Homo sapiens: one gene and its partners. The protein of the gene in region 1 interacts with the protein of each later gene in a pairwise test. Each region holds a gene or a part of one and is shown in the gene's direction. Other genes may lie near its edges.

What was found.
Region 2: the proteins of NAF1 (region 1) and ELOA interact in binary tests that used the Homo sapiens proteins (3 or more experiments, as listed by UniProt).
Region 3: the proteins of NAF1 (region 1) and MAGED1 interact in binary tests that used the Homo sapiens proteins (3 or more experiments, as listed by UniProt).
Region 4: the proteins of NAF1 (region 1) and DAZAP2 interact in binary tests that used the Homo sapiens proteins (3 or more experiments, as listed by UniProt).

What each region holds. Positions count from the first base shown.
Region 1 is NC_000004.12:163,163,690-163,172,457, reverse strand, and holds the start of NAF1 (H/ACA ribonucleoprotein complex non-core subunit NAF1), read left to right. Parts: upstream 1-5,567; 5' UTR 5,568-5,730; coding exon 5,731-6,095; intron 6,096-6,175; exon of another isoform or gene 6,176-7,236; intron 7,237-8,066; coding exon 8,067-8,241; intron 8,242-8,768. UniProt on the Homo sapiens protein: RNA-binding protein required for the maturation of box H/ACA snoRNPs complex and ribosome biogenesis.
Region 2 is NC_000001.11:23,738,391-23,747,026, forward strand, and holds the start of ELOA (elongin-A), read left to right. Parts: upstream 1-5,080; 5' UTR 5,081-5,113; coding exon 5,114-5,188; intron 5,189-8,636. UniProt on the Homo sapiens protein: SIII, also known as elongin, is a general transcription elongation factor that increases the RNA polymerase II transcription elongation past template-encoded arresting sites.
Region 3 is NC_000023.11:51,888,240-51,897,090, forward strand, and holds the start of MAGED1 (melanoma-associated antigen D1), read left to right. Parts: upstream 1-5,383; 5' UTR 5,384-5,516; intron 5,517-6,029; 5' UTR 6,030-6,065; coding exon 6,066-6,110; intron 6,111-6,387; coding exon of another isoform or gene 6,388-6,555; intron 6,556-6,813; coding exon 6,814-7,521; intron 7,522-8,169; coding exon 8,170-8,838; intron 8,839-8,851. UniProt on the Homo sapiens protein: Involved in the apoptotic response after nerve growth factor (NGF) binding in neuronal cells. Inhibits cell cycle progression, and facilitates NGFR-mediated apoptosis. May act as a regulator of the function of DLX family members.
Region 4 is NC_000012.12:51,240,914-51,244,433, forward strand, and holds the end of DAZAP2 (DAZ-associated protein 2), read left to right. Parts: coding exon 1-203; intron 204-1,416; coding exon 1,417-1,545; coding exon of another isoform or gene 1,546-1,739; 3' UTR 1,740-3,020; downstream 3,021-3,520. UniProt on the Homo sapiens protein: In unstressed cells, promotes SIAH1-mediated polyubiquitination and degradation of the serine/threonine-protein kinase HIPK2, probably by acting as a loading factor that potentiates complex formation between HIPK2 and ubiquitin ligase SIAH1.

The sequences.
Region 1 (8,768 bases):
TGGGTTTTTGATAGTTGAGAGAATAAAAACTGAGGATGAGAAGCCTCGGAAATTAAAGTATAGAGTCCGCTCCTATACTCATCCTGCCGATAAATTTACCTTCAAATCCCGGATGGGTCCCCAAGTATAAAATGGCCTCATCGTCTGGGGTAAATACCAAGGTTCTTGGTCTCACAGCTGAGGAAATCAAGAACATGAACACATAACCACAGAGAGTGAGACTGGAGCAGGAGTTTATTCGGCAAAAGAAAAGAACAGCTCTCGGTCACGGAGAGGGGTCCCAAACAGGTTGCCAAGTTGTAGTAAAAAATGTCAGTTTTTTATAAATGGGCTAGTAAGGAGGGTGTGACTTATCTTCCTAGGGCCCGAACAAATGGTTAGGACCAGGTGTGCTATCTGCATAGAGCAGGGTCTCTATCAGCCCCCACCCCATTCTTTGATCATGTGGGTACACTCTTAGTTTATGCTGCTCTGTGCTGTTTGTGTGTGCTAAAAGGGAGGGAAGAGTGTCTGTGCCTATTCCCAGGCACCTTCTTGCAGCTGCAGGTATCTCACCTGTGCCTACTTCCAGCTTCCCTGTCTTAGTATGCCTAAAGAAAGAGAAAGAGATATGCTTATGAAGGCCCACTGTTTTTACTGGGACCCATTGTATGTATGTGAAGTTTGGTGATTACCCAGGAAACTCCCCACTCTGTGCCTTAGTTGCTTATATGTGTTTTACAGCCTGAGCGTCCAGGCTGCTCTTTGTTAGAAAGGAAGTGATTTCTTTGAACTGATTGAGGTTAAAAAGGGAGCTATTTCTGAGCTGCTTTTTGTTAGAAGGAAAGTTTTCTGCCTGGGACTCACCCTAACTCTCTACCTAAATAATTTCTATCTCCTATAACACAAAGATACTGGACCAAGTATGCTCAGTTCCTTTTCCCAAGATCACCAGTCAGATGTCACTCTCTTATCTGATAAGTCACTCTCTTACAAGCTGAGTGTGAGAGGAGACTAGGTGGCAAGAGATGCCTAGTCTCTAATCTATAATTTCTGTCCATACTCTCAAATGAGTCCAGTAGAGTTTCAGTCCATTTTGAGTTAAAATAGCACTTATACCTCTCTTTTCCCTACTACACTAGTTGGCAATGCAAACATATGACCTTGACTTAAATTAGTGCTACAATATATAAATAGGAATAGCAACTCACCCAAACAGTCACATAACCTGCTTTTAATCATTTTGTGATATATATTAGAAAATCTCATCATTTTTATCTAGCAAGTGCATTGTAGGTTTCTGGAAATGTAAATGTGTCTATTCATGTATTTTTAAACATTGAAATAGACTAAGATCAATCAGTGACATTTATAGAAATAATTTAAGTTTTACGTGCTCCCTTTGAAATGTAATATGCCATTTAAATTGTAATTTAATTCAAGGTAAATTCTCTCATAACGTTAATAGTGACCCTGTAAGCTACACAGTCTTCCAAGGTGTTTTTTTGGATTTAGTCTTAGGTTAAAGACTTCAGGCTAAGTTTAGCAACTGTTAGAAATAATGCGGTTGAGAGGAAGGCTGTGGAAGTAGGTAAATTCAGGACATTCTGAAACAAGCACTTAGAAAAATTACCATTTGTGAAACACTGACCTACTTCAAAGCTAGGCATAGGTACCACTATCATTATGTTGAAACACAGAAACATTTCCACCACACAAACAAAAGACTTTTATTTAAAAACAGTAGCCTTTCTTAGATATCATCAGATTAATTTAAATTGAAAGAATAACAGATATTATCTGTTAAGTCATATTCCTTACTCTGATTGTCCCATTGAGCTTTATTCTTTCTTTCTTTCATTCATCCATTCAAAAATCCTTATAGGATTTATTCTGTTTCCAGGCACTTAGAGAAACAGCTGTGAATTAGACAAAGATCCTGGGCACCTGAGACTTAATTTTATGAAAAAACAGACAATAAAGAAGTAAATAAATATAATTTCATGTGAAGATAAATACTATTTAAATAAAAACAGTGAGCTATAAGCTAGGAAGTGATTGGTATTGAGGGGTGCACTTAGATTGGGTGGTCTGGAAAGCTCTCTCTTAGGTGTAGTGTTTGAGTAGAACCATAAATGAGTAAAAAGGCCACGTTAATATGAAGAGAAGAGAGAACAGAAAAGTGAAAATGTCACACGTGAAGAATTAACTTGGTGAGTTGAAGGGAGATCAAGACCAGTGCTCATGTGAAACAAGGGTGGGGAAGACGGTAGGAGATAGAAACTGGAGAGGTAAGTAGTGGCCAGATCAGGTAGACTGTTGAAAGCCAAAGCAGGGAGTCTGAATTTTATTCTAAGTGTGCTTACAAATATTTAGAGTTTATAAATAATTAAGCAGGAAATTACAATGATCTTATTTATTATCCCCTGTGAAGGTCTCCTGTTTTCTCAGATTAACAAATTCATGGTTCTCTTTAAAAGTCCAGCTCAAGTATCACACGCATTGTAAAGCCTTTTGTCATTGTCAGTGAGGCAGTGGTTGGGTGGTCCTGTTTAACCAGCTTTCCTAGAGGTGACTTCTCCCATTCAGTTCTATTCAAGTCAAAGATGAGTCTTAGAGACTGTCTCATGCTTTAGTAGTTTATTCTGGCATCGCTCTTAAAAGATAGTGGGAAGAGGCTGGGGGTATAGACCAGATAGTCAGGGCTCGGATGATCAAGAGAGCCTCCAACCAGAGACTGTTCTCAGTGTTGGGGGTTTCTTCCCCCTTTTTAAAACCTGTATTCAGCTTGGTCAGTTATCAGATGTTTCTCTCATAAATGGAGTCGAAGCTATTCTTACAAGGGTAAGCTTTAAGGTTCATGAAAGTTGCATCTGTGCTGAAGTGGCCTGGTCTCCTGGAAATCACTGGGCCAGGGGTGGAAATCTCCAGGGCCAGTTAGTATTATATTGATAAATACATTTAGTGTCAGCCCCTCAAGACACTTGAGTGAGCCTTATGGCTATAATTACTCTTATAGCCACGATATATCTCTTATAGTACATTTTCCTTAATTTTCCAAGTATCTTCTCTGTCTTTAGTTTTCCCATTTCATACATTCTTGCATTTACATGGTACATTTCTCTACTATAGTACCTTCTGCTTGTTTTCAACTTGTCTGTTCTACTGAACTGTTAACTCCATAAGGGTAGGGACTGTGTTTATCTTCCTGTATGCATAGTTTATAATGCAGTGCACAGCATATCGTAATGTTAAGAAAATGATTACTGAATGAACAAATGAGTATTTCAATTATCCCATAACTTAGGCTTCTGGTCTTAACCTTTCTGTCAAATTCCAGTTTCTTATTTTTAAATGCCTATTTACATTTTTAATTGTCTAGTTTTTCTTCAGACTCAACTTCACATACCCACATCTCTTTCCAACTTCTCCGTTTAATTAATTAATTAATTAATTTGAGAGGGAGTTTCCCTCTTGTTGCCTAGGCTGGAGTGCAATGGTGCAATCTTGGCTCACTGCAGCCTTTGCCTCCTGAGTTCAAGCGATTCTCCTGCCTCAGCCTCCCAAGTAGCTGGGATTACAGGTGCCCACCACCATGCCCAGCTAAGTTTTTGTATTTTTAGAAGAGATGGGTTTTCGTCATGTTGGCCAGGCTGGTCTCAAACTCCCGGCCTCAGGTGATCTGCCTACCTCAGCCTCCCAAAATGCTGGAATTACAGGCGTGAGGCCCTGCGACTGGCCAACTTCTCCGTTTTTATTGGTAATACCAACTTCTTTCTAATTTCCTTGACCAGAAATTTTAGAGTACTTTTATTCTTCCCCTGATGCTGGGGATGTCCTTTACTCTATTTCATTGACTGTAAGCCTAGTTCAGACTTTTATCACCTAATTCCTGGAAAAATGCAACAAAGTGGCTGGCTGGGGAATAATTCTGGCTCAAACGTCTTCCCTTCTCAAATCTGTACTGCATGTCTTTGCAAGATCATTGTTAATTAAATATTTTATTCGTGAGTTCATGCATTGTTCCATTTTCCAAGTATTTTTGCACACTGAATGTATGACATGCCACTCCCTTATATAAAGCCTTACTTAGTGCTCACATGAACTAAATGAGATAGTATTTTTATCTCCATTTTACAGATAAGGAAATTAGGATTTAGATTAACTGCCCAAAGTCAGTAACACCAAACACAAAATGGTAGAGCTGAGGCCTGAACACAGGTCTTTTTAGTTGAAAACTCTGAGCTCTGCTTAATCATTGTGCTAGTAAGTTCGTATCCCAAGTTTAAAGTCCTTCTTCACTTTGGAGGATTTCCATGAAATAGCCTACCAATCCTACTTCCCATTTCTGCTGCACTTGGATTTTCTATTTCATATTTCAAATATTTTTCTAGTTATCTCCTGTGCATTGCCCTTCTCTACTTCAAGTAGATTGTAAGCTTCTTAAAACCTTACTCTTATTACACTTGCCTTGCATTTCTATGAAGATCTACTGTTGTAGATGACACACTAAATTCTCAGTGAATAATTTATAAAATCTTTAGCACAGTCCTTGGCACATATGCATGTTTAACAAATGGTATCAATGATTATTATTACTACACAGGGACTGATGCCTCAAACTGAAGACCTAATAGGAAACCAGAAAATTCTGATCTCTTCCTCAGTCCTAAGAACTCTGCTTGCTTTCTCCACAATTTAGACTAGTGGTTTCCAACAATAAGTGAGTACATTTCAGTCTCATAGTCTCATCTCTCTACTACGAAACAGTGCTAAGTATGATATAGACATCACCATAACATGAACAACACAGCAAAATTTTGTCCATTACTGCTCTCTTTGAGGGTACTTTGGAGAAAGGAAAATGGAATAGTTGTAGTTACATTTTTGAAAAAATGGTTAATACCCTATCTATCGACAGATGGATCTATTGATGGATAAACTTCATTTAACTTTCATGAAGTTACTAGCGTCTTGTCAAGACTTCCTGGCTCAAGTTTCTGATGTACAGAACTTAGCATTCTTCAGGCACCCCCCTGTTGTATAATCCCTGCTTCATTTTGGCGCTTCAAGCAGAATTGGTTCACATGCAGCAATAGGAAAATCCGACATTCAGGCCTTGAATGGTTCACATGACGCAGTGAAAACGGTCGATTTAGGGCCTCCCTAGTCCTGATTATTTTTTTTTGAGACGGAGTCTCGCTTTCTCGCCAGGCTGGAGTGCAGTGGCGCGGTCTCGGCTCACTCCAACTTCCGCCTGCTGGGTTCAAGCGATTCTCCTGCCTCAGCCTCCCAAGTAGTGGGAATTACAGGCACGCGCCACCATGCCCAGCTAATTTTTGTATTTTTAGTAGAGATGGGGTTTCACCATGTTGGGCAGGCTGGTCTGTGAACTCCTGACCTTGTGATCCGCCCACCTCGGTCTCCCAAAGTGCTGGGATTACGAGCGTGAGCCACGGCGCCCGACCCCCTAATCCTGATTTTCGAAGATATGACGCATGTATCCTGCCCCCGCGAGCGCCGTCGCGCCGTCGCGCCACATACGTCACACGCTCTTCGGAAAGCGTTGCTGCGTAAATGGCGGGGGCGTGTCTTTTGGCTCCTCCGCGTGTAGTTACCTGAGAAACGCGGGAAGTTGGGCCCAGGCAGTGTTGCTGCGGTTGCCTAAGTTGTTTTTCTATTTCTGGAGAGAGCCGTGAGCTTGTCCAGGGGCCCCAATCCTGAGGCCGACCCGGTTTCTGGCGCGGTGCGATGGAGGTAGTGGAGGCCGCCGCCGCTCAGCTGGAAACTCTGAAATTCAATGGCACCGACTTTGGAGTTGGGGAAGGTCCGGCGGCTCCGTCTCCGGGCTCTGCCCCTGTGCCAGGGACACAGCCGCCGCTACAGTCGTTTGAGGGGTCCCCGGACGCTGGGCAGACCGTGGAGGTTAAGCCTGCCGGGGAGCAGCCTCTGCAGCCCGTTCTGAACGCCGTCGCGGCCGGGACCCCGGCGCCGCAGCCACAGCCACCGGCTGAATCGCCGGCCTGCGGAGACTGCGTCACCTCCCCAGGAGCCGCAGAGCCTGCGCGGGCGCCGGACTCCTTGGAGACCTCGGACTCGGATTCGGACTCGGACAGGTCGGGTGCCTAAGGGACCCGGAGCTGTGGGGAGAGGTCTTGTATGACGGGCGGGGGTGGCTGGGGCCTAGGAGCCTAGAGGTTGCTTGTGTGGGCCCTGGAGGGTGGGCAGGTCGTTGGTGCTCCGGGCTCACGTGTTGAAGTATTGGCTCCGACTGCCCCTTATTCGCTGCCTCTCAAAGCAGGTCGCGTTGTGAATCTGAGCTTAGTACTGACTTATTTCCTAAATTTGGTGGCCTGAAGGGTTCTATGTATAGATCGTATCATTTTTTGTTAGACTTTAGAAAACCCGAGGATCTTAGGTTATTTCCGTAACTACTCAGTTTAGGCTGTACTTTTGTGGTTATAGTTGAGTTTTGTGTCAGATCTGATTTTTTTTTATCATCACATCTAGGCTTTGTTTTTTGAACCACATACATTGGGGATCAGGAAAAGTATTATTTTTTGTGTTTCAAAGCTGGCTCTTGATGATTACGTTAATTTATAGAATCCTTGCAGGGAACACGTGTTTATGAAAGTAGCCAAACAGTGTTATTTAGTAGTATCTTATGCTTCTTACGTTTTGTGAGAGCCTTTCCCCCTTGCCCCCACACCTGTCTTTTAAATATGAAATCTCTGGGCTGGAGAGGACTCCAGCATGTGGGATGTTACTAAACCACACTGAACATTGTCTACAAATAGTTGAGTGTGTTGAGTGGGGTACTGAACAGGTTAACAAGATAGACACGTGTTGAGGAGGTGAGAAGTTTAGTTTTCAGGGAAGTCATCAGCGGAGAGTGGAAGTGAAGAAGGCTGAAGGATTTGAGTAGAAGGAGAGGGTATGAAATGTACTGGGAGGGGGAAGTAACAACTGTAAACAAGGTTGGATTTCTTGGCAGTACTAAGATTGCAGTATAATCATCTTGTGGGATTTCAGAGCTCATTTTACTAGCAAAGAAAAGTAAATGGTAGATGATTTGGGGATACGTTTTGAAAGCAGAAGGGATATGGCGTCATAATAGGCCAACTTAGTGTCAGGATACTACTTCTGACTCTGTGGGTGATGGCAGAGGATACCAAATATTTGAAGAAGTCAAAAGGGGTACAACTTTTTGCCAGTTAACAGCAGTGAAATCAAATGGAAACTGAAGAAGCAGGTTTAGTTAGTATAATGCACTTTTTCTTGTTTTAACTTGCTATGAGTGTGGGTGTATAGGCCATTCGTACAAAGGTGGCCAGTATGCCGTCAGAGATTGGACATGGAGTTTAGAGATGTCATAGCTGAAGATTTAGGCGTTAATTCACATGGATGATGACTGAAATCATTAATGTGTATGGGATTATCCATGAAAGTAGTAGCGAAAGAAGAGAAAGTGAGGATGGAACCCTTAAAAATAGTATATAAAAGGGCTTCAAGTGGGGAGCCAACAAACAAAATTTAAACTGAGACAGTGGTTGCTGTTAACGATAATTTCTGTGGAAGATAAGGACCAAGTGAGTTTTCAGAAAGTAGAATGGTCTACATACTTTCGTAACTGAGGATTTCCCAAGTTGTCTGTAGCCTGAGAAGAAACTCATTAAGCAATCTGGCAATTAAGCGATCTGGTGGTTGTGACTAAGAGAGGTGCCATGCCCAGAATTCCCTTTTTTTAGTGGTTTGTCACATGCTTGCTTATATTCAGACAGGTGTATGATATGTGAGAGTATTGTAATAAGAGGATCTGGGTTATGGCAAAGGTTTGAAAATGTTATTGGTAAACTAAATACTACTTTCCCAATACCATATCAGTTTTGAAGTGCTAGTTTTGAATTAGAACAGCAGTAGTAAACATGTAGTAAAGTTGATATTTCTTAATTGCATAATCTTATTTTAATATTAGAATAAGCAATAGTAAACTTGTATTAAAGTTGATATTTCTTAATTGAATAATCTTATTTTAATATTAGTATAATAATACTGGACTATTTTTTTAACTGTTTTCTTCCCTACAGTGAAACAGATTCAGATAGTTCAAGTTCATCGTCTTCCTCTTCATCTTCCTCATCGTCGTCTTCTTCCTCTTGTATATCACTTCCTCCAGTGCTGTCAGATGGAGATGATGATTTACAAATTGAGAAGGAAAATAAGAATTTTCCTCTTAAAACAAAAGATGAATTACTTCTTAATGTAAGTACTTAGATTTATTAAGCTTAGTTTGCATGTTTTAAAACGTATTCTGGTACCAGTATTGATCTAATTTTGCCTATATCTGCTCCATAAATTTGAAATTTATTCTCAGCCTAATAGGCATGCTTTTGGTATGCCTTGGCTTTCTTATGTAAAAGAGAGTAGTGATCTGGATAATTTCTTAGGTTGCTTCTAACTCTGCTGACCTTTGATAATTGTTCCGATTATGGCATCAACTTCAGCTTTGAACTTTACATTTTTTACATTCCCTAGAAGAAGATATTTCTTATGTAGATTTGCTTTTTTTTTTGGTCTGCACGTCAGAAAATTTTGCTCAATAGCAATTGAAATTTCAATAGCAATTGAAATCAATTTTTTTGGTCTGCACGTCAGAAAATTTTGCTCAATAGCAATTGACTTTTTAATTGACTGCATTTAGAGAAGTAGAAGATGAAATTCAGAGGGTTGAACTTGTTAGGATTCCTATTGAAGTTTTTGGAGTGTTTTTATTATTACAGTTGGAGAAA
Region 2 (8,636 bases), on another chromosome or scaffold:
CCACAGCTGTGCAGAACAAAACTGGCCAGATGGGCCAGGCACAGTGGCTCACACCTGTAATCCCAGCACTTTGGGAGGTTGAGGCAGGCGGATCACCTGAGGTCAGGAGTTCGAGACTAGCCTGGCCAACATGGTGAAACCCTGTCTCTACTAAAAATACAAAAATTAGCCAGGCGTGGTGGCACACACCTGTAATCCCAGCTACTGGGGAGGCTGAGGCAGGAGAATTGCTTGAGCCCGGGAGGCAGAGGTTGTAGTGAGCCAAGATCCTGCCAATGCACTCTAGCCTGGCTGACAGAGCGAGACTCTGTCTCAAAACAAAAACAAAAACAAAAACAAAAACAAAAACAAAAAAAACTTGCCAGATGGAGGATTTTATATCTTGCTTTACAGCAGCACATTATATTTTCTTTACCAAGGCAATGCATTTTCCCCAATAATTGCTGCCTTTTCAAAAAGACCTATTATATGCCAATTACTTGACATATTAATAAGCCTCAGGATATCTATACAGTAGGAGGAAAAAATTTCAGCAAGTTTAAGTAACTTGATCAGGAGCCATGGCTAGCATTGGTGGAATTGGGATTGGAGCCCAGGTTGTCACTAAGCTCCAAGCTTTGTTCTTTACACCACCATCCAAGCAACTTCAGATGCTGCCTACTTGCTAAGATAGAGTGGCAGACCTCTCGGCAGAAGAGGTCCAAGGAGGAAGCCCGCTTGAGCCACCATGCCTCACTTAGCACACTGTCAGGCCCGCAGAATCTTACTTGACTGTTTTATGAAAGGGCTCCTCTCTGCTATGAGGACAAGATGGTTGATTTTTTTTTTTTTTTTGAGACAGTTTCATTCTTGTTGCTCTGGCTGGAGTGCAATGGTGCAGTCTAGCTCACTGCAACCTCCATCTCCCAGGTTCAAGTGATTTTCCTGCCTCAGCCTCCCAAGTAGCTGGGATTACAGGCACCCGCCACCACACCCGGCCAATTTTTTTTTTTTTTTTTGAGACAGTTGTTGCCCAGGCTGGAGTGCAATGGCGCAGTCTCAGCTCACTGCAACCTCCGCCTCCCGGGTTCAAGTGATTTTCCTGCCTCAGCCTCCCAAGTAGCTGGGATTACAGGCACCCGCCACCACACCCGGCCAATTTTTTTTTTTTTTTTTTTTTTTGAGACAGTTGTTGCCCAGGCTGGAGTGCAATGGCGCAATCTTGGCTCACTGCAACCTCTGCCTCCTGGGTTCAAGCAATTCTCCTGCCTCTGCCTCCTGAGTACCTATGATTACAGACAGGTGCCACCACGCTGGGCTAATTTTCATGTTTTTAGTAGAGACGGGGTTTCACCATGTTGGCCAGGCTGGTCTCGAACTCCGGACCTCAGGTGATCCACCCACCTCTGCCTCCCAAAGTGCTGAGATTACAGGCATGAGCCACTGCGCCCGGCCTGAAAATTTTTTTAACTTGTCTTTCAGTGTTTTAAATCTCTCTAATGCTAGCCAGCCTAGGATTACTCTTTTCCAAAATTAAAATACCTTTAAGTTATTTTCATTATAAAAATAGACCAGACTGGGTGCAGTTGCTCATGCCTGGAATCTCAACACTTTGGGAGGCTAAGGCGGGAGGATCACTTGAGCCCAGGAGTTCAAGACCAGCGTGGGCAACCTAGTGAGACCTTTTCTCTACAAAAAATAAAAATAAAAAAATTAGCTGGGCATGGTGGCATACACCTGTAGTCCCAAGCTGAGGCAACAGGATTACTTGAGCCCAGGAGGTCAAGACTGACAGTGAGCCGTGAATGTGTCAGGGCACTCCAGCCCGGGCAACAGAGTGAGACCCTGTCTCAAAAAAAAATAAAGTAAGGGCTGGGTGCGGTGGCTCATGCCTGTAATCCCAGCACTTTGGGAGGCCGAGACGGGCGGATCACGAGGTCAGAAGATCGAGACCAGCCTGGCTAACACGGTGAAACCCCATCTCTATTAAAAATACAAAAAAAATTAGCCGGGTGTAGTGGCGGGCGCCTGTAGTCCCAGCTACTCAGGAGGCTGAGGCAGGAGAACGGCATGAACCCGGGAGGCAGAGCTTGCAGTGAGCCGAGATCGCGTCACCACTCCAGCCTGGGCGACTGAACGAGACTATACTGAGTAGACTATACTTGCTGCAAAAATTCAAAAAAGTGTACGGAGCAGATGAGAGCCTCCTTGCCCATCCTCCTCCCCTAGTATAGCCTTGAATTCATCTCCCAAACAGAATAGGATGGGTCTTTTAGTTACTCTCGCAGAGGGCTCTGTAGTGCTGATAAGAGAGCTGAGGAGCCCCTCTTAGGTTTTCAGATGACACGTCAGGCTAGCCTTATATTTAATAATTTAAATTTAATAATAATTATTTCAGTTTTCAAGAAACTTACTGAATCTCACCTATGTGCTAAATGTTGCTGATTGAAGATGGGTAAATAGCCTCTGACCTTAGGGATCTCATTCCTGTGTTGAACACTCGTGTGTAAACCAAGGGTTACAATGGTAATCCCCCAGTGAATACATACAGAGTACCAATTTTAGAAGTGGTTGAAAAGTTTTTTTAAAAAATCAGAGAATTACACATGTATAATTAGCTGCTCATCCTAGAAGTCATATATCCAGACCAGGCGTGGTGGCTCATGCCTGTAATCGCAGCACTTTGGGAGGCTGAGGCGGGTGGATCACTTGAGGTCAACAGTTCGAGACCAGCCTGGCCAATATGGTGAAACCCCGTCTCTACTAGAAATACAAAAATTAGCCGAGCGTAGTGGCGCATGCCTGTAGTCTCAGCTACTCGGGAGGCTGAGGCAGAAGAATTGCTTGAACCTGGGAGGCAGAGGTTGCAGTGAGCCCAGATCTCGCCATTGCACTCCAGCCTGGGTAACAGAGTGAGACTCTGTCTCAAAAAAAAAAAAAAAAAAAAGTCATATATCCAAATGTAAGAGTACTTTGCAGGTAAGCCTGACTCAGTCTGACATAGGGGTGGCTGTCTGGGAGCAGCACACCCACTCCAGGATCCCCCAGAAGCATTCGTTGTTTCTTTCTGTTTTTTTTTGGTTTTGTTTTTTCTGTTGCCCAGGCTGGAGCAGTGGTGCGATCATGGCTCACTGCAGTCTTGATCTCCTGGGCTCAAATGGTTCTCCTAACTCAGTCTCCCAAGTAGCTGGGACCACAGGCACGCACCACCATGCCTGGCTAATTTTAAAATTTTTGTATTTTTTGTAGAGGCTGGGTCTTACTACGTTACCCAGGCTGGTCTCAAACTCCTGGGCTCAAGCAGTCCTCCCGTCTTGACCCCCAAAGTGCTGGGATTACAGGCATGAGCCACTGTGCCCAACCTCATTGTTTCTTTTCATTTTGGTTATTGAGCTCTCTCTGGATAACATCTGCAGAATGTTTCATGTGTCCCGAGTATGTGCCAGGCCAATTACTCAGCAATTCTGCTTCAAGAATCAGTCTGTATTCCATTACACCAGTGGTACATTTTCAAAATGGAAGGAATATAAAATGTAAAAGTATTTGCTACGCAGAGGAGGGAGACACTACTGCTGGGACTAGAATCGAAGTTTTCTCACACCCAGTTCAATGCCTTTTCTACAACATCCCTCAGTTGAGCCTTAGGGTACCAAGTGGATGGTCATTAGTCTTGTATGGACTTTATATCCAATGCTGATTATAAGGTCTAGATGATGCTAGGTGGCAGAGATTCAAAGTTGGACAGGTCGGTTACTGTACTTGATAAATAAACAGCCCAGTGGCAAGACAGATAAATAAACTGACCATTTACACCCTGAAAAGGTGGTCAGTTGCTTAGGGAACTGGGGGAGGGGCGCCAAATGGAGGAGTAGGGACATGGTAGAGAGGGCTTTTCAGCATAGTGAGTGAATGAATGCTCATTTGAAGAAACAACTTGTGTTTAAGATGTTTTTCTTTCTTCCAGAGCTAGAATCTGGAAGAATCTCTGGGCTTTCCTGCTTTGAGGGAGAGATCAGGCTAGGTGCATTGCCAATTTGCTGCTGAAGATCTGATTAGGTTCTGCTTTGATGTGATCAAATGAGATGTAATCAGTGCTGGTACTTTAAGTGAGTTTGCAACTATTTAGTTGCTCTTTTTAGTAGTAGTATTAGTAATGGTAAAACTTAGTGCTTTTAGGATGAGAGTAGACGGCCTGAAGAATAATATCTTGGGCTCTTCTAATCAAGCCATACGGCTCATTGGCAAGTCATCAGAGGAAACATCTATCTATCTATACATTCATGCAATAAGTATTTATTTAGTGCCTATGTGCCAGACACTGTTTGTGGGGAAAACAAGACACATGGGCTATTATTGCCTCATGGAAGGAACTAAGCTGTTTGGATTTTGAAAAATCCCTTTCTCTGGGCCTCAATTCCTCGACCTGTTCAGAAATGTGCGCTCACAATGGTCCTAGACATCTTAGATTCAGGTTCCATTTTCAGTTCTTTCCTGTCCTGCGGCCATCTGCAAGTTAATTTGGTCTCCCTGAACCTCAGTTTCCTCATCTGTAAAATGAAGATCATACAACTCGTTTCATCAGGTTGTACTGAGGCTGGAAAAGATAGTCTAACTACTGACGCATCGTGTGCTCAGCCTAGGGTGGCTGCTACCGCGGGTGCCTGCGGACTCCTAGGACGGGCACCAGCCCGGGACCCCTGACAAGGTGTTGATTAGGGTGTGGCTAAGCCCCAGGCGGGAGAAAGCGTTGGCATTTATAAGGCCAGGGTCTGGCGCGGTGGCCTCATTCCGTCTTGAAGTAGACCCTGGAGAGGTCTTCCAGGCTTGGGCTCAGCACGCGAGCACAGGGAGCGGGGGTGCCGGCGGCGGAGGCGCGTACGGCCCGAGCAGCCCCCAGCCCCCAGCGCGCACACTTGGGCCAGGGGCGCGAGGAGTGCGCGGCCGCCGGGTGGGCGCTGGGGAGCGGGCCCTGGGGGCGGAGCCTGCAGCCCACCGCCCCCCACACACCCCAGCCGAGGCCCGGAAGGGGCCAGGCGCGCTTCCGTCTCCGCCGGGGATGCACGGAGGGCGGAGCTGCGGCCCGAGGACGCGACGCGAGCCCAGTTCCGGCGAGGAGGCCGCGCCAGTGACAGCGATGGCGGCGGAGTCGGCGCTCCAAGTTGTGGAGAAGCTGCAGGCGCGCCTGGCCGCGAACCCGGACCCTAAGAAGGTAAGCGAGGGGGCGGCGCGTAGCGGGATGGGCGTTGGGTCGGTGAGGGCCCCGTAACGGTCGCGGCCCGAGCGTGGCGGGGTTCGGGGGCTGGGACCCTGAGCCAGGCCCCGCGGGGCTGGGGTCGTGAAGTTCGCGGCCATTGACCGCTGCCCGCGCGTTGGGACCCCGTGCGTCGGGCGTCGGGACGCGGGGCCCCGGCCGCTCCCCCTCCCTCACGGGCCCGGGATGGGGGCGCGCCCGGTGCGGACACCGCGTGCCTAGCGCTTCCTCCCAGAGGCGCTCCGTGGCGTCCCGAGCCAGCTGTTTCCTGCGGGAGAGCGTGCCCGGGGCGGGAGGGCGCTGGCCGCCGCCTCGTTGGCCTCCCGGTGCCTGCGCTGGTGCCCGGCTCCCCGCGGAGCGGCGCGGACTCCCCAGCGGGTGCGTGTTCGCTGGGAGGAGAAGACGGGCGCCCGAACGCTGCGGAGCCTGGACTCGCGGTCTGGTCCGCGCCTCTCGGAGACGCGGTTACTACTCTCCGGCTGGATATCAGAGCGTGGACCTTTCGCTTTCTCAGTGAATCCCTTTCAAAACAGAATAAAGCCTCGCGTCACCTAAGCATACTCCTGAAAACTTAGGTTGGAATTGAAAAAGAGGCGGGGGCCCGGGGTTGGAAGTCGCAGCTAGGTTTCCTTTTGGCCATTAATAGGAAGGTAAGAGCTACCGTTTCTCGTTGTTCGAGTGATGGACAACCATTTTTAATTGTAGTTAACTAGTTTTTGTTGTTTATTGTACAAACTGAATATTAAGTTAAACGCGTTCTTGTACCTTTTCATCTTTCTGTCACTCACTTCTCTGGTCTCCAGGAGACAGTCTGGTGGTTGTCAGGATTTTTTTTTTTCTTTTTTTTTTTTGAGGCGAGTCTTGCTCTGGTCGCCCAGGCTGGAGTACAGTGGCGCGATCTCGGCTCACTGCAACCTCCGTCTCCCGGGTTCAGGCAATTGTCTGCCTCAGCCTCCCGAGTAGCTGGTATTGTAGGCGCCCGCCACCACGCCTGGCTAATTTTTGTATTTTTAGTAGAGACAGGGTTTCACCATCTTGGCCAGGCTGGTCTTGAACTCAGTTGTCAGGATTTTTTAAGTGGAAGTACAACGATGAAAAAGCACTTATGTGTTTGGCATTCTCCGTCATCATTCTGGCCGGGGCGGGCAGTTCTAGGAGTTGGAACTCAGTCCTGGTGGAAAAGGAAGTCGTGGAGGGAGGGCTAGGGCCGTGGGGGAACTGCTCTGCTGAGCCTCTTCCTCACCTGCTGCTTCCTAGGACTAACCTGAAAGGCTAAGGTACCAGGCTGAAAGTCAGTGCTCAGAAAACCAATCGTCATTCTTTGGGGTTTTTTTTCTTGAAGAGCCACTTTCTCTTTACCTTGTTCTAGCCTGTTGGAGGTAGGGTTTCTGCAATTCCAAAGGCCGTACACAGCCTCTCACCATCAGACCACTTTTTAAGGCTCTTCGTTCATACCTAGCTCGAAGATTCACTTCCTCAGGAAGCCATTTTAGTTACAAATCTGGGAAAACTTAAAATGCTTTCATTGTGCCATGTTTTCTGTTGCAGCTTCAGTACCGTACCTAGTGGTCAGGCATACTTACAAGTTTCTTTTTACAGTAACCCCTTGTGGACATCTAATAAATGGTCATTATTTTTTAGTACTAGTTTGTTTTCCTGAACACTGTAAGATCTGTGACTGACGTTTGATACCTTAAAGCAGTGCCATATAATAACTACCCACTATTTGTTCTTTATTTCTGTCAGATAAAAATGTTCTATGTAGTGTCTACAGTCATTTTTTTTTTAACTAGAATTTAGATTTGGAAGTAGTTTTTCTATTAGTTGATTTGCATGAAATACAAAATTAGGAAAAGGCTTATTCCACCTCAACCTAGTTGAACTATTAATGATTTTTTTTTTTTTTTGAGGATTTGGGCTCTTTCTAGATAGAAAATCACCCTGAACTTCTAGCTTTGCATTGTGAAGTGAGCATCATGAAGATGAGAAAATGTTGGGAGATCATTTTTGCAAAGGGCATAATAGTCGGCATTCAGATATGAGTTAACTGCAGAGGGAAAATTGCAAGCTGTCATGTTGGCCTTGTTCCTCTCAACCTTCTGGTAACCTAACAAGCTCCTACAGGTTGTATGTGAAATTGCAAGATGATTATATAGCCCTGTTGAATTTACAACCAGATCTTGCTTTCAAACCATTATTAGCCAAGGGTTTGATTCCACACCTGTGTTCATGGATTTTTTGGTACTAGACATTGCTGTAACTCTGTTTTCACTTTTTCATCTGTTATCTTGGCTCACTTAAGGGAGAAGGTATCAGCAGCCTAGGACCACTTGGTTTCTGTTTTTATGTTTCATAGTTCATGGCTGATAAAAATTACCTGTCCTTAGGCCGAGTGCAGTGCCTCACACCTGTAATCCCAGCACTTTGGGAGGCCGAGGTGAGTAGATCACCTGAGATCAGGAGTTCGAGACCAGCCTGGCCAACATGGTGAAACCCCTTCTCTACTAAAAGTACGAAAATTAGCCAGGTGTGGTGGCAGGCGCCTGTAATCCCAGCTGCTCGGGAGGCTGAGGCAGGAGAACACTCGAACCCGGGAGGCAGAGGTTGCAGCGAGCTGAGATCGCGCCATTGCACTCCAGCCTGGGCAACAAGAGCGAAACTCCGTCTCAAAAAAAAAAAAACAAAAAAAACACACACACACAGTTGGCCGGGCGCAGTGGCTCACGCTTGTAATCACAGCACTTTGGGAGGCCAAGAGGGGCGGATCATCTGAGGTCAAGAGTTCGAGACCAGCCTGGCCAACATGATGAAACCCCATCTCTACTAAAAATAAAAAAATTAGTTGGTCATGGTGGTGGTGCCTGTAATCCCAGCTACTCGGGAGGCTGAGACAGGAGAATCTCTTGAACCCAGGAGGCGGAGGTTGCAGTGAGCCGAGATGGCACCATTGCACTCCAGCCTGGACAACAAGAGCAAAACTCCATCTCCAAAAAAAAAAAAAAAAAAAAAAAGGATCCTCGTCCTGTGTTACATTTTCACTGTGAAAGCTACCAAGAACATTTTGATGGCAGGTGACATTAAAAATATTTTTTGCTTTTTTGGGTTGAAGGATTGTACAGGGGACAACTGAGATGCCTCAACATGTACCTTGCAAATGTTTGATATTTCTCAGTTGCCTGTTACCAGTTCTTACAAGCTCTATAGTTGGTATCTTGTTTGATAACAGCAAGTTTCGATCCACCTGAGGATGCCCAATGTGCCTTTGCCTTGTTATTGCTTTGTTCTTTCTTGAAATTTACTGAAAATAGAGGGGTTGTGAAGTCCTTTTTTCTCTTGTGTTAGACTAAATGAGTCTGAAAATCTTGAGGGTTTTAGTTTTGTCTGCTTTTAAATCACCCCTAATAAC
Region 3 (8,851 bases), on another chromosome or scaffold:
AAAACGTCTCATGTACCCCATGAATATATATACCTACTATGTACCCACAAAATTTTTTTAATTAAAAAATAGGTAAAAGGCATGAAGAGGCATTTAATCAAAGAGGATATATGGATGGCAGAAAAGCACATGTAAAGATGTTCAACATCATTAGCCATTAGGGAAATGCAAATTAAAACCACAGTAAGATATTACTACACACCTATGGCCAAAATATACTGACACCAGCAGATGCTAGCAAGGATTTGGAGAAACTGTATCCTTCACACATAGCTGGTGGGAATGTCAAATGGTATGATCACTCTAGGAAAGTTTGGTAATTTCTTGTAAAACTAACATGCACTTACTATATACCCCAACAATTGCACTCTTGGGTACTTATCCCAGAGAATTGGGAACTTAGGTTCACACAGATACTTGTACACAAATGTGTGTAGCAGCTTCATTCACAGTAGCCCAAAACTGGAAATGACCCAGATGTCTTTCAGTGGGTGAATGGTTAAACCAACTGTTGTAGCACCTCTATACCATGTAATAGTACTCAACAATAAAACAAGAAACTCTGATACACAAGACAACTGGGATGCATCTCACAGGCATTATGCTGAGTGTGAAAAAAGCCAATCTCAAAATGTGACATATTGTATGATTACATTTTCATGACCTCTTGAAATGATAAAATTATAGAGATGGAGAACACATTAGTGGCTGCCAGGGGTTAGGGATGGGGGCGGTGGAGGAGGGTTGGTTGTGACTATAATGGGGTAGTAAGAGGGAAATCTTTGTGGTGATGAAATAGTTCTGTGTCTTGATTGCTGTGGTGTTTGTAGAGACTTCCACATGTGATAAGGTGATATAGAACTATATACACATATTGTACCAATGTCAGTGTCTTGGTTTTGATTTTGTACTGCAGTTACACAGATGTAACCATTGGGGAAGCAGATAAAGGGTACATAGAACCTCACTGTACTATCCTCGCAATTCCCTGTGTATCTGTAATTATTTCAAAATAAAAAGTTTAAAAAGTTTTTTAAAAGCAGAATTAATAAAATATTACCTAAAAGCAGTAGGGCATCAGTTATATTTCAAAAATCATGTCATAGGGCCGGGCATGGTGGCTCATGCCTGTAATCCTAACACTTTGGGAGGCTGAGGTGGGTGGATCACCTGAGGTCAGGAGTTCTACACCAGCCTGGCCAACATGGTGAAACCCCATCTCTCCTGAAAATAGAAAAATTATCCGGGCGTGGTGGTGGGTGCCTGTAATCCCAGTTACTCGGGAGGCTCTAGCAGGAGAATCACTTGAACCTGGGAGGTGGAGGTTGTAGTGAGCTGAGATCATGCCACTGCACTCCAGCCTGAGTGAAAGAGTGAGACTCTGTCTCAAAAAAAAAAAAAAAAAAAAAAAAAGCCATATGTATTAGCTGGTTGGATACCATTGCTGCCGCTACTGAACAGTGGACACCGGATGTTAGCCCTGCCACTAATGCTGCCCCTAGAAACTGGATTTTCTTGTGGCTGCTGCTCCCACCACCACAACTATGGTGGTGAATTCCATCACTGCATATTTGAATCACTCCTTTGAAACAAAGTGTTAGGTCTAAGTTGTAACTGCAGTGAAAGGGTTGTACTCAGCAGGTCTGCAATGTTCAAACCCTATGCTTTCCAAAAAAAGGTCTTTTGCAAAGAATGCTTTGGCTCTTGACCAGCTCTTGGGAGATAATCTGTAAGCCCTTGGAAGTATCCTGCCTGATCAGAGTGTCTTTGTTTACTGTGGCCTTGGCCCACACTGGATAGTTTGTGCTAACAGTGTGATTTGTGGTGTGAGCCTTGGGCTGAGAGATACTAGTTTAACCTCTGCATGGACTAGAGACTGAATAACTAAGGTCAACCACACAGGTGCTCCATGCCTATCTGACTGAACCCCAAAAACAACTCTGGGCACCAAGGCTTGGGTGAACTTCCCTGGTTGACAGTATTTCATACATGTTTTCACACATCATTGTTGGGGGAATTAAGCACTGGCCATACAACTCCATTGGGAGAGTACAACTGAAAAGTCGTGCCTGGTCTCTCCTGAATTTTTCCCTATGCACTTTTTACTTTTGCTGATTTTAATCTGTATCCTTTCACTGTAATAAACAATAGCCATAACACTTTTTCTGAGTTCTCCGAATCCTTCTAGCAAATCATTGAATCTGAGGATGGTCTTCAGGAGCTTGCCACACTGGTAAATCCTAGATCACATTCTCTTAGCTGCCAAGGGCATGTGAAGAAGTGAATATCTGGCCTTTGTGGCTTTTGCACTTGGAACTGTTAAGTAAGAATATATATGACCTTACTAAAATGTTAAAAATCGAAATACATCTGGCCCCAAGGGTTTTCAGTAAGGATCTATAACGCTATATAAAGAACTCCTAAAAGTCAGTAAGACAGACAACCCAAATGAAAAACAGGTAAAATATACAAGCATATTACAAAATAAATCTAATATGTTCATTAATGTATAAAAATGTGTTCTACCACATTGCTTATCAGAAATATAAATTAAAACCATAAGGAGATACCAATAAATACACATAAGATTGGCAAAAAAAAAAAAAAAAAGGAAAAGTCTTGTAGAGTATGTCAGTCTTACTCCTGGGCTTCTGGTGTCACGGAAATAAAGACAAACATTAATTATTAAAGTATAAGAATACATGTACAAGTATTTTTATTGCAATGTTGTTGTATTGCCACGCTCCCCACAAAAATCCTGAAACTAAAATGGATTCCATCCATGGGGGAATGGTTAAATACATTGTGGTACATTCTTACCATGGAATATTATGCAGTCATTTAAAAGAACGAATCACAGGTAGACTGTTGTCAAATAAGATAATTCAGACACATAAAAGTTCATGTAATCTTAAATTTGTAAAAATAAAAAACAACTTTTGAGTATGGAAGGATATCAAATGGTGTTAAAAACAAGTGTTTGGCAGGTGAAGGTAGAATTGAAAGGAAGTGGGAAGCAGTAAGGAAAAGAATGCAATTTAAGGTCTGGCATATATAACACATCATTTATGTAACAACATATATGTGTGTAAAGTATGAAAAGGTAGCACCAAATCTAAGCAATTGTCCAAGGTGATGAGATTTAGTGATGTTTATTTAATTTCTAAAATATTTAGGCAGTGTTTGAATGTATAGTGATGAGTGTGCATTATTTGTATAATGAGGAAAAATAAGTGAATTGATCACAGGAAAAATTGCCTCTCAGGTTTCTTGCTTTAGCAATGGGATGGAGAGTGCGATTCATTCATTTAACAAATATTTATTGAGGATATAAAAATGTGCCAGGCATGGTTCTAGGTGCTGGGGAAACAACAATGAATAAAACAAAAATCTGTCTCCCTAAGAGGTTTACACTCTAAATGGGGGAGAAAGGCATAACTAGAGGAGAAACACTGTGTTGGTGGGAAGGAGGAGGCGTATGAAGGAATCGGTTTGGGACCTGTTAATTTAGAGAATACTGAGAGATATCCATTTGGAGAAGTGAGGTAGGTAGTTACTATGGATCTAGAATTCATAGGCCAAGTCATGACCGAAGATACAGATATGGAAACAGATAGCATAGAAAATGGTGTTTCTGACCTCCTTTCCTGAGTCTGATCACGTCTCACTGCAGACACTTTACAGAGGAAGTGCTGAGGAAAAACAGGCAGCTGACAGAGGAGGTTGCTATGCAACAGATGAGGAAAGTCATCCAGCCAGGCAGAACTGATGTTGGCCCTTGGGGACCAAATGCTGCAGTCCTTCCTAGCATTAGCTTCCTTTCATGTTCAGGCTTCTGGCATGAGTTGATGCCAGAACAAATGTGAACTGCACAAAGATCTGTCTTGAATTTTGGAACTGTACCAGTTTAATTTGAGTCACCTCACATCTGTATTTAATTTTCTGCCTTTTTGAGTTTCTCCAGTTATCCTGGAAGCATAGCAGCGTGTGTGTCCTTGGGTAGGACCCACTTGCTGTGCATTCCACTTTGCACATTGAGAAACCAGGCCCAGAGAATTGAGTGACCCGTGCGGGCTCACACAGCTCGAGACAGACAGGCTGGGCACTCCATTCCTGGAATTCTGAAGCCCAGCCCAGTTTCTCTCCATAAAACCACAGCTGCCCCAGGCCCCAGCCCTGAAAGGAACCAGGGCTTGCCATGGCTCAGACACACAGGTCTGATTGTCCTGGCTGCTCCAGTGGGCACCAGGAAGGCCTCAGGGACAGTGTGATTGTATCCCTGATAAGGAAGAGGCCTGATGTTCTGAGCACAGAGTGGACCCCAAGGAGCAATTCCCACGCCTGGATGGACCCACACAGGGCAGGGGGAGGGTGGGGGCCTCTGCTTGTGTCCTCCTGAATGCAGAGCATGAGCTTGGGCCTCCTAGAACACAAACTTTGCTTGTTTGGTACAAATGGGGTGCCGTGGTCTGTTGCTCAAATGGAGGAGGGAGGGGTACCCTTAGTCCCCAGGCCAGCATGAGCAGAATGTGGGCTTTGGAGTCAGGAAGACCCAGACCCAAATTTTGCATTTTGTTTCCTGGCTCTGTGGCCTTGTCTAGTTCATGCAATGTATCTGTGCCTCAGCTTCCTGATCTGCAAAATAGGGGTGCTGACATCCACTTCCCAGGGCTGCTGTGACAGGAAGACAAGCCCCAGCACAAATCCTGCTGTGATGTACAAGCTGTGCCCTTCCCTCCTTTCCTCCCCCAACACACACAAAATGAGTCCATCACCGGAGCTGCAGAAAGAAAGGGAAGAAACTAACGTTCTTTCTGCGTCTGGGAGCTTGTGGGGGCGGGCAGGGGGTGAGGGAGAAATCATGGAGTCACGTGGCAGCCACAGACTTACTACTACTACTTTGTTAGCTCCAATAGTGTATCCTCTCAGGCCATTCCGTTTCCTCAGCAGAGGTCTAACACTTGTTGCAATTAGAGACCCCAAACAGAGACCTAAGCATGCTGGACAAGGGGGTGGAGATGCAAGCCGGCCTGACAGGAGGGGCCTTGAATAGGGGAGGGACGGAATAGAGACGCATTGCGGAAAAGGTAGGGGGCCGGTGTGTGGGGCAAGGGGTGGGACCAAGAGGCACAGCGCATCTGTGGGGGAGGGGGCGTAGAGGAAGGGGAGGTGCTGTTGTATAGTGTCGACCTGGTTGGTGGTGGGGTGGTGTGTTGGCAAAGGGGGCGGGACCGCCTTCCAGCGCACATGCGCATCATGGTCTCCAGGACGAAGCTTTTGTTGGGAAAGCAGGCGGGACTGACTTTGGCTCTTCAGTGTTTGCGCATGCGCGTAACGTCCTGAGGCGGTGGGTGGTATATTAGGCGAAGAGGCGGGGTCGCCCAAGCTGCCGCGCTGGCATTTTCTCCTGGACAAGGAGAGAGTGCGGCTGCTGAGAGCCGAGCCCAGCAATCCCGATCCTCTGAGTCGTGAAGAAGGGAGGCAGCGAGGGGGTTGGGGTTGGGGCCTGAGGCAAGGTGAGAATTAGCCCCCAGACTGGGCATCTGCCCCCTGGTGCGGGCCCCCATTTTTTTTTATCCCGATCCCTTCACCCTGGATTCTGAATCCCCTTCCACCCCCCAAACCCCAATTCAATGCCCCTCCCGATCCTTCCTGATTCAAAACCCCTGTCCGATCCCTCCCATCGTTCGAAATCCTCAGATTCCTTGACCTCGATCTGTACTGTTAGATGATTCCTCCTGACTCAAAACCTCCATGCAACTTCCCAAATGCGAATCCCAACCCAACCGCACCCCCGCTCCGAATTCAGAACTCATCTGCTTCCCGATCCCCATTTGAAGCTTCGCCCTGTCAGTAGCTTCTCGGGGTTCAGAACCTCCATCTGGACGCCCATTCACTTTTACCGCTCCGATCCGTTCCTCCTCACATTCACCTTATCCGCCCGCACAGTCAGACCACAGTCACCCCCCTCCCAATTAGGTCCTTCGTATTTGCCCTCTGTAGTATAACGCCCTGCCCCTCTCCCACAGCCCCCAGGCTCCGCTCTTGCCAGAGGGACAGGAGCCATGGCTCAGAAAATGGACTGTGGTGCGGGCCTCCTCGGCTTCCAGGTGAGATCTCCACTCCCCACCCCACCATTTCCCCAGCCGACAGTCACCCCTCCCCGCGGGCCTCTTTGGTCTCCCAAACGCCGGGATCCGGTTTGACCCTATTTAGTGACTAGACTCCGTGGGCTTTTCGAATTCCCATCGTTTATCGAAGGGGGGGAGGGGCGTCTCTTTTCAGCCATCAGTCCCTGCTCAGAGAGAGGGGAGACCCTGTTAGTAGTCAGGGCAATCTGCCCAGAGAATGCGGGGTGGGTAAGGAACCATTTTTTTTTTTTTCCAGAATCCTGACGCTTGTAGAGCAGTCTGTCACCCCCTCCCCCAGCCTCCTGCCTCCACCCTCCCTCTTTCTGCATTCCCCACTCTGTGCGACCCCCCTTATTCTCAACTCCGCGATCCGCCTGCCGTCCTGAGCTGCTACTGCACGCCTCTTGGAGCGTCCCCGGCTCCTGTTCGTGCCCACTTTCCGCATACCGCCCCACCCCTCATTTTGCCCTTGCCCTACTTCACCCCTGCCACATGTTTAGTACCCGCCTGGTCCCCCATCGCCCCTCGCGGGCCCCCTAGATCTCTGCCTCAGCCCCCCTGTTTTTGCACCCACCGCCCGCCTGCAGCTCCGCTGCTGCGCTGCCACCCGGGCTCCCTATTCCCACCCCACCTCCTGCCTCAGAGGCCCAGAGATTTAATTTTTTCCCCCCTGTGTTTGCAGGCTGAGGCCTCCGTAGAAGACAGCGCCTTGCTTATGCAGACCTTGATGGAGGCCATCCAGATCTCAGAGGCTCCACCTACTAACCAGGCCACCGCAGCTGCTAGTCCCCAGAGTTCACAGCCCCCAACTGCCAATGAGATGGCTGACATTCAGGTTTCAGCAGCTGCCGCTAGGCCTAAGTCAGCCTTTAAAGTCCAGAATGCCACCACAAAAGGCCCAAATGGTGTCTATGATTTCTCTCAGGCTCATAATGCCAAGGATGTGCCCAACACGCAGCCCAAGGCAGCCTTTAAGTCCCAAAATGCTACCCCAAAGGGTCCAAATGCTGCCTATGATTTTTCCCAGGCAGCAACCACTGGTGAGTTAGCTGCTAACAAGTCTGAGATGGCCTTCAAGGCCCAGAATGCCACTACTAAAGTGGGCCCAAATGCCACCTACAATTTCTCTCAGTCTCTCAATGCCAATGACCTGGCCAACAGCAGGCCTAAGACCCCTTTCAAGGCTTGGAATGATACCACTAAGGCCCCAACAGCTGATACCCAGACCCAGAATGTAAATCAGGCCAAAATGGCCACTTCCCAGGCTGACATAGAGACCGACCCAGGTATCTCTGAACCTGACGGTGCAACTGCACAGACATCAGCAGATGGTTCCCAGGCTCAGAATCTGGAGTCCCGGACAATAATTCGGGGCAAGAGGACCCGCAAGGTGAGATCTCTGCTAACTTCATTTTGCTTTGGGGCTGTCTCCTTTCTTCTCTGAGGGTGTTCATTTGTTCTAAACAAAACAATGTATGTAACTGTATTCAGCTAGGCTATAGGGCATTTGAAGAGAATGTTTATTCCTGTCCTCCGGATGTTCACAAACTGATGGGGAGATAATACATGGACACAAATAATATATACAACCTGTATGTAATTCAGTTTACATTTTGTTATGTTAGTAACCACCATGTGTTAAGCCTTGAGCTAGGCACATTCACACAGGTTGTCTCATTAAACCTTAAAGGCACCTCCTACCAGGTAGGGATCATAGTGCCAATTTTACAAAGAAGGAAATTAAGTGCCAGAGAGGTGAAGTGACTTGAGTGATTTGTTCAGGGTGGTACAGGCAGAACCAGTGGTGGACATAGGAAGAGGAGAAGCCTCAGGCCCCATCTTTGGGTTGCTCCTGGCCTGGCTCGGAGATGAAACTCCTGCCTGGAAGACAGTGAAAGACAAACCCAGGACTCAGGGTGACCAATGGCTAGTGGGTCAGGCTGTCACTACAGGTGAGGGTTTAGAGGGCATTCCTGGAATAGATAAGGTGAGGACACAGAACCCACTGGTGATTCTGAACTTCTCTCTGATGATGCAGATTAATAACTTGAATGTTGAAGAGAACAGCAGTGGGGATCAGAGGCGGGCCCCACTGGCTGCAGGGACCTGGAGGTCTGCACCAGTTCCAGTGACCACTCAGAACCCACCTGGCGCACCCCCCAATGTGCTCTGGCAGACGCCATTGGCTTGGCAGAACCCCTCAGGCTGGCAAAACCAGACAGCCAGGCAGACCCCACCAGCACGTCAGAGCCCTCCAGCTAGGCAGACCCCACCAGCCTGGCAGAACCCAGTCGCTTGGCAGAACCCAGTGATTTGGCCAAACCCAGTAATCTGGCAGAACCCAGTGATCTGGCCAAACCCCATTGTCTGGCCCGGCCCTGTTGTCTGGCCGAATCCACTGGCCTGGCAGAATCCACCTGGATGGCAGACTCCACCTGGATGGCAGACCCCACCGGGCTGGCAGGGTCCTCCAGACTGGCAAGGTCCTCCTGACTGGCCGCTACCACCCGACTGGCCACTGCCACCTGATTGGCCACTTCCCACTGACTGGCCACTACCACCTGACTGGATCCCCGCTGATTGGCCAATTCCACCTGACTGGCAGAACCTGCGCCCCTCGCCTAACCTGCGCCCTTCTCCCAACTCGCGTGCCTCACAGAACCCAGGTGCTGCACAGCCCCGAGATGTGGCCCTTCTTCAGGAAAGAGTAAGAGCTGTAA
Region 4 (3,520 bases), on another chromosome or scaffold:
CCACCATGTCAGCCGCATTTCCTGGAGCCTCTCTGTATCTTCCCATGGCCCAGTCTGTGGCTGTTGGGCCTTTAGGTTCCACAATCCCCATGGCTTATTATCCAGTCGGTCCCATCTATCCACCTGGCTCCACAGTGCTGGTGGAAGGAGGGTATGATGCAGGTGCCAGATTTGGAGCTGGGGCTACTGCTGGCAACATTCCTGTGAGTATGACCTCATCAGAAGAAACTCAGCCCTTGTGTATTTTAACTTTCTGAAATGACTTCATATTCATTCTCTTACCATTTCTGGATGATAGTTGCCAGTGTTGGTACAACTACTGACATCCAATACTCAGGCAGAAAGTGTTTGAGGGGGCAGAACTGTGGCAAGTGAGTAGCATCTCACTGGGGGCTGAGTTAACCAGATTCTTTTGTTTTCATGTCTGTCGAGTCCTGCTTGCTGCTTTTCCAGTTCATTGTGGTACACTGAACTGGTCTAGTAATGCTCCTTATTCATTCCATAAGCATTTACCATTTACTTAATATTTGCCATCAGCATGGTGTTGCACTAGGAACCCTGATAATTAAAAAAGTAGAATGTATAATCCCTAGTAAGTAGCTTTTAGAAAGATATTAACAATTTTAGTTATCATTTTTTCCTACTTAATTCCCCAGTGCGTGGGATTTAGAGCTCAAATGACTGCTCAGTAACTACATGCTAGAGATGAAGTGAATGTGTCATTAGCGAGCCTTCAGTTTTCCAGTAGTTCATTCAAAAACTGTGTAAGGGCGAAGCACGGTGGCTCACCTGAGGTCAGGAGTTTGAGACCAGGCTGGCCAACATGGTGAAACCCCGACTCTACTATAAATACAAAAATTAGCCGGGCATGGTGGCAGGCGTCTGTAATCCCAGCTACTTGGGAGGCTAAGACAGGAGAATCACTTGAACCTGGGAGGTGGAGGTTGCAGTGAGCTGAGATCCCACCACTGCACTCCAGCCTGGGCGACAAGAGCAAGACTCTATCTCAAAAAAATTAAAAAAAAAAAAAATTAAAAATTAAAAACTATGTAGGGACCATGTGGGATTCATACATGGACTGGCACCCTGTCCCTGTTTTGGGAATGTGAGTAGGACAGTGGTTCTCTACCCTCAAAATGACTGTTGGTCTGGTCTGTTCATGTTCAGAAGGTAGCCATAGGCTTCATCTTAGAGCTGGAACCCTTTGAATGAGTGGTAGGCTCCCTTTCCTGTTTGTATCTTTGGGTTCACATAAAGTATAGACCTACTTTAGAACTCAAATTGGTGGCGGAACTAGCTCCTTAAAACGCAGCTGGTTAGCACATTGCCTCATCCTAACAGGCCTCTGCTTCCCCTATGTCCCCTTCGCTTATATTAGCTGCCCTGTGCCCATTCTATCATGTCATTTCCTTTCAGCCTCCACCTCCTGGATGCCCTCCCAATGCTGCTCAGCTTGCAGTCATGCAGGGAGCCAACGTCCTCGTAACTCAGCGGAAGGGGAACTTCTTCATGGGTGGTTCAGATGGTGGCTACACCATCTGGTGAGGAACCAAGGCCACCTCTGTGCCGGGAAAGACATCACATACCTTCAGCACTTCTCACAATGTAACTGCTTTAGTCATATTAACCTGAAGTTGCAGTTTAGACACATGTTGTTGGGGTGTCTTTCTGGTGCCCAAACTTTCAGGCACTTTTCAAATTTAATAAGGAACCATGTAATGGTAGCAGTACCTCCCTAAAGCATTTTGAGGTAGGGGAGGTATCCATTCATAAAATGAATGTGGGTGAAGCCGCCCTAAGGATTTTCCTTTAATTTCTCTGGAGTAATACTGTACCATACTGGTCTTTGCTTTTAGTAATAAAACATCAAATTAGGTTTGGAGGGAACTTTGATCTTCCTAAGAATTAAAGTTGCCAAATTATTCTGATTGGTCTTTAATCTCCTTTAAGTCTTTGATATATATTACTTGTTATAAATGGAACGCATTAGTTGTCTGCCTTTTCCTTTCCATCCCTTGCCCCACCCATCCCATCTCCAACCCTAGTCTTCCATTTCCTCCCGCCAGTCTCCATTGAATCAATGGTGCAGGACAGAAAGCCAGTCAGACTAATTTCCTTCTTTCCTCGCACTTCTCCCCACTCGTCATCTTTTAACTAGTGTTTCACAAGGATCCTCTGAAACCCTCTCTGTGCCCCAAGTACAGATGCCATTACTTCTGCTTTCGTATCTCCTCAGGCAAAAGTGGAGGGTGCCTTATGGGCCCTCCTCATAGGTTGTCTCTGCATACACGAACCTAACCCAAATTTGCTTTGGTGCCAGAAAAACTGAGCTATGTTTGAACAAAGATGTCGTGCAAACTGTACTGTGAACAACAGTTGGTTTAAAATATGAGGGGCAAGGAGGAGGATGCATTTCAAAAGCTTGATTGATGTGTTCAGAGCTAAATTAAGAGGAGTTTTCAGATCAAAAACTGGTTACCATTTTTTGTCAGAGTGTCTGATGCGGCCACTCATTCGGCTCCCCAGAATTCCTAGACTGGGTTAATAGGGTCATATTGTGAATGTCTCACTACAAAATGACTTGAGTCCAGTGAAATCTCATTAGGGTTTAAGAATATTTCAGGGATCCTTAATGTTTTGATTTTTGTTTTCTGAAATTGGATTTTATTTTATTTTATCTTATAATTTCAGTTCATCTAAATTGTGTGTTCTGTACATGTGATGTTTGACTGTACCATTGACTGTTATGGAAGTTCAGCGTTGTATGTCTCTCTCTACACTGTGGTGCACTTAACTTGTGGAATTTTTATACTAAAAATGTAGAATAAAGACTATTTTGAAGATTTGAATAAAGTGATGAAGTTGCATTACACCTCACTGCAAGGATTCTTTACTTAGCTTGTTTTTAGATTTCTTCTATATATATTTTATTTATATCCCATCTAGAATTCAGCTAGGTGCTGCTGCTGCTCTGTTTCCTTTGATGACGCTTTGAAATAAAGGCAGGAGTACAAGCCTAAGACTTGATCATTTCATGAATTCCATTCCAGATGTTCAACTTTTCATCATTTTACTCCAACCTCTTACAAATTTTGGAATTTCGGACCTAAACTTAGAAATGAGGGAACTATTGATTCTCCTAACTTGCTCTAAAGTTTGGCTTGAAGAAAAGGTTCTGGTATAGCAATTTGTATACGTTGAGGATGACCTTTAGTTTCTCCAATGTTCTATGTGGAGAAATACTGAAAACTCATAGAATCTAGGTTGCCAAGATAGATTCCTCAGCTCTTTTATTTATTTTTTGAGACAGGGTCTCCCTCTGTCACCCGGGCTGGAGTGCAGTGGCAGTGTCTGCTCACTGCAACCTCCACCTCCCGGGTTCAAGTGATTCTCCTGTCTCAGCCTCCTGAGTAGCTGGGATTACAGGCACCTGCTACAACACCTGGTTCATTTCTGTACTTTTAGTAGAGACGGCTTCACTGCGTTGGCCACGCTGGTCTCAAACTCCTGACCTCAAGTG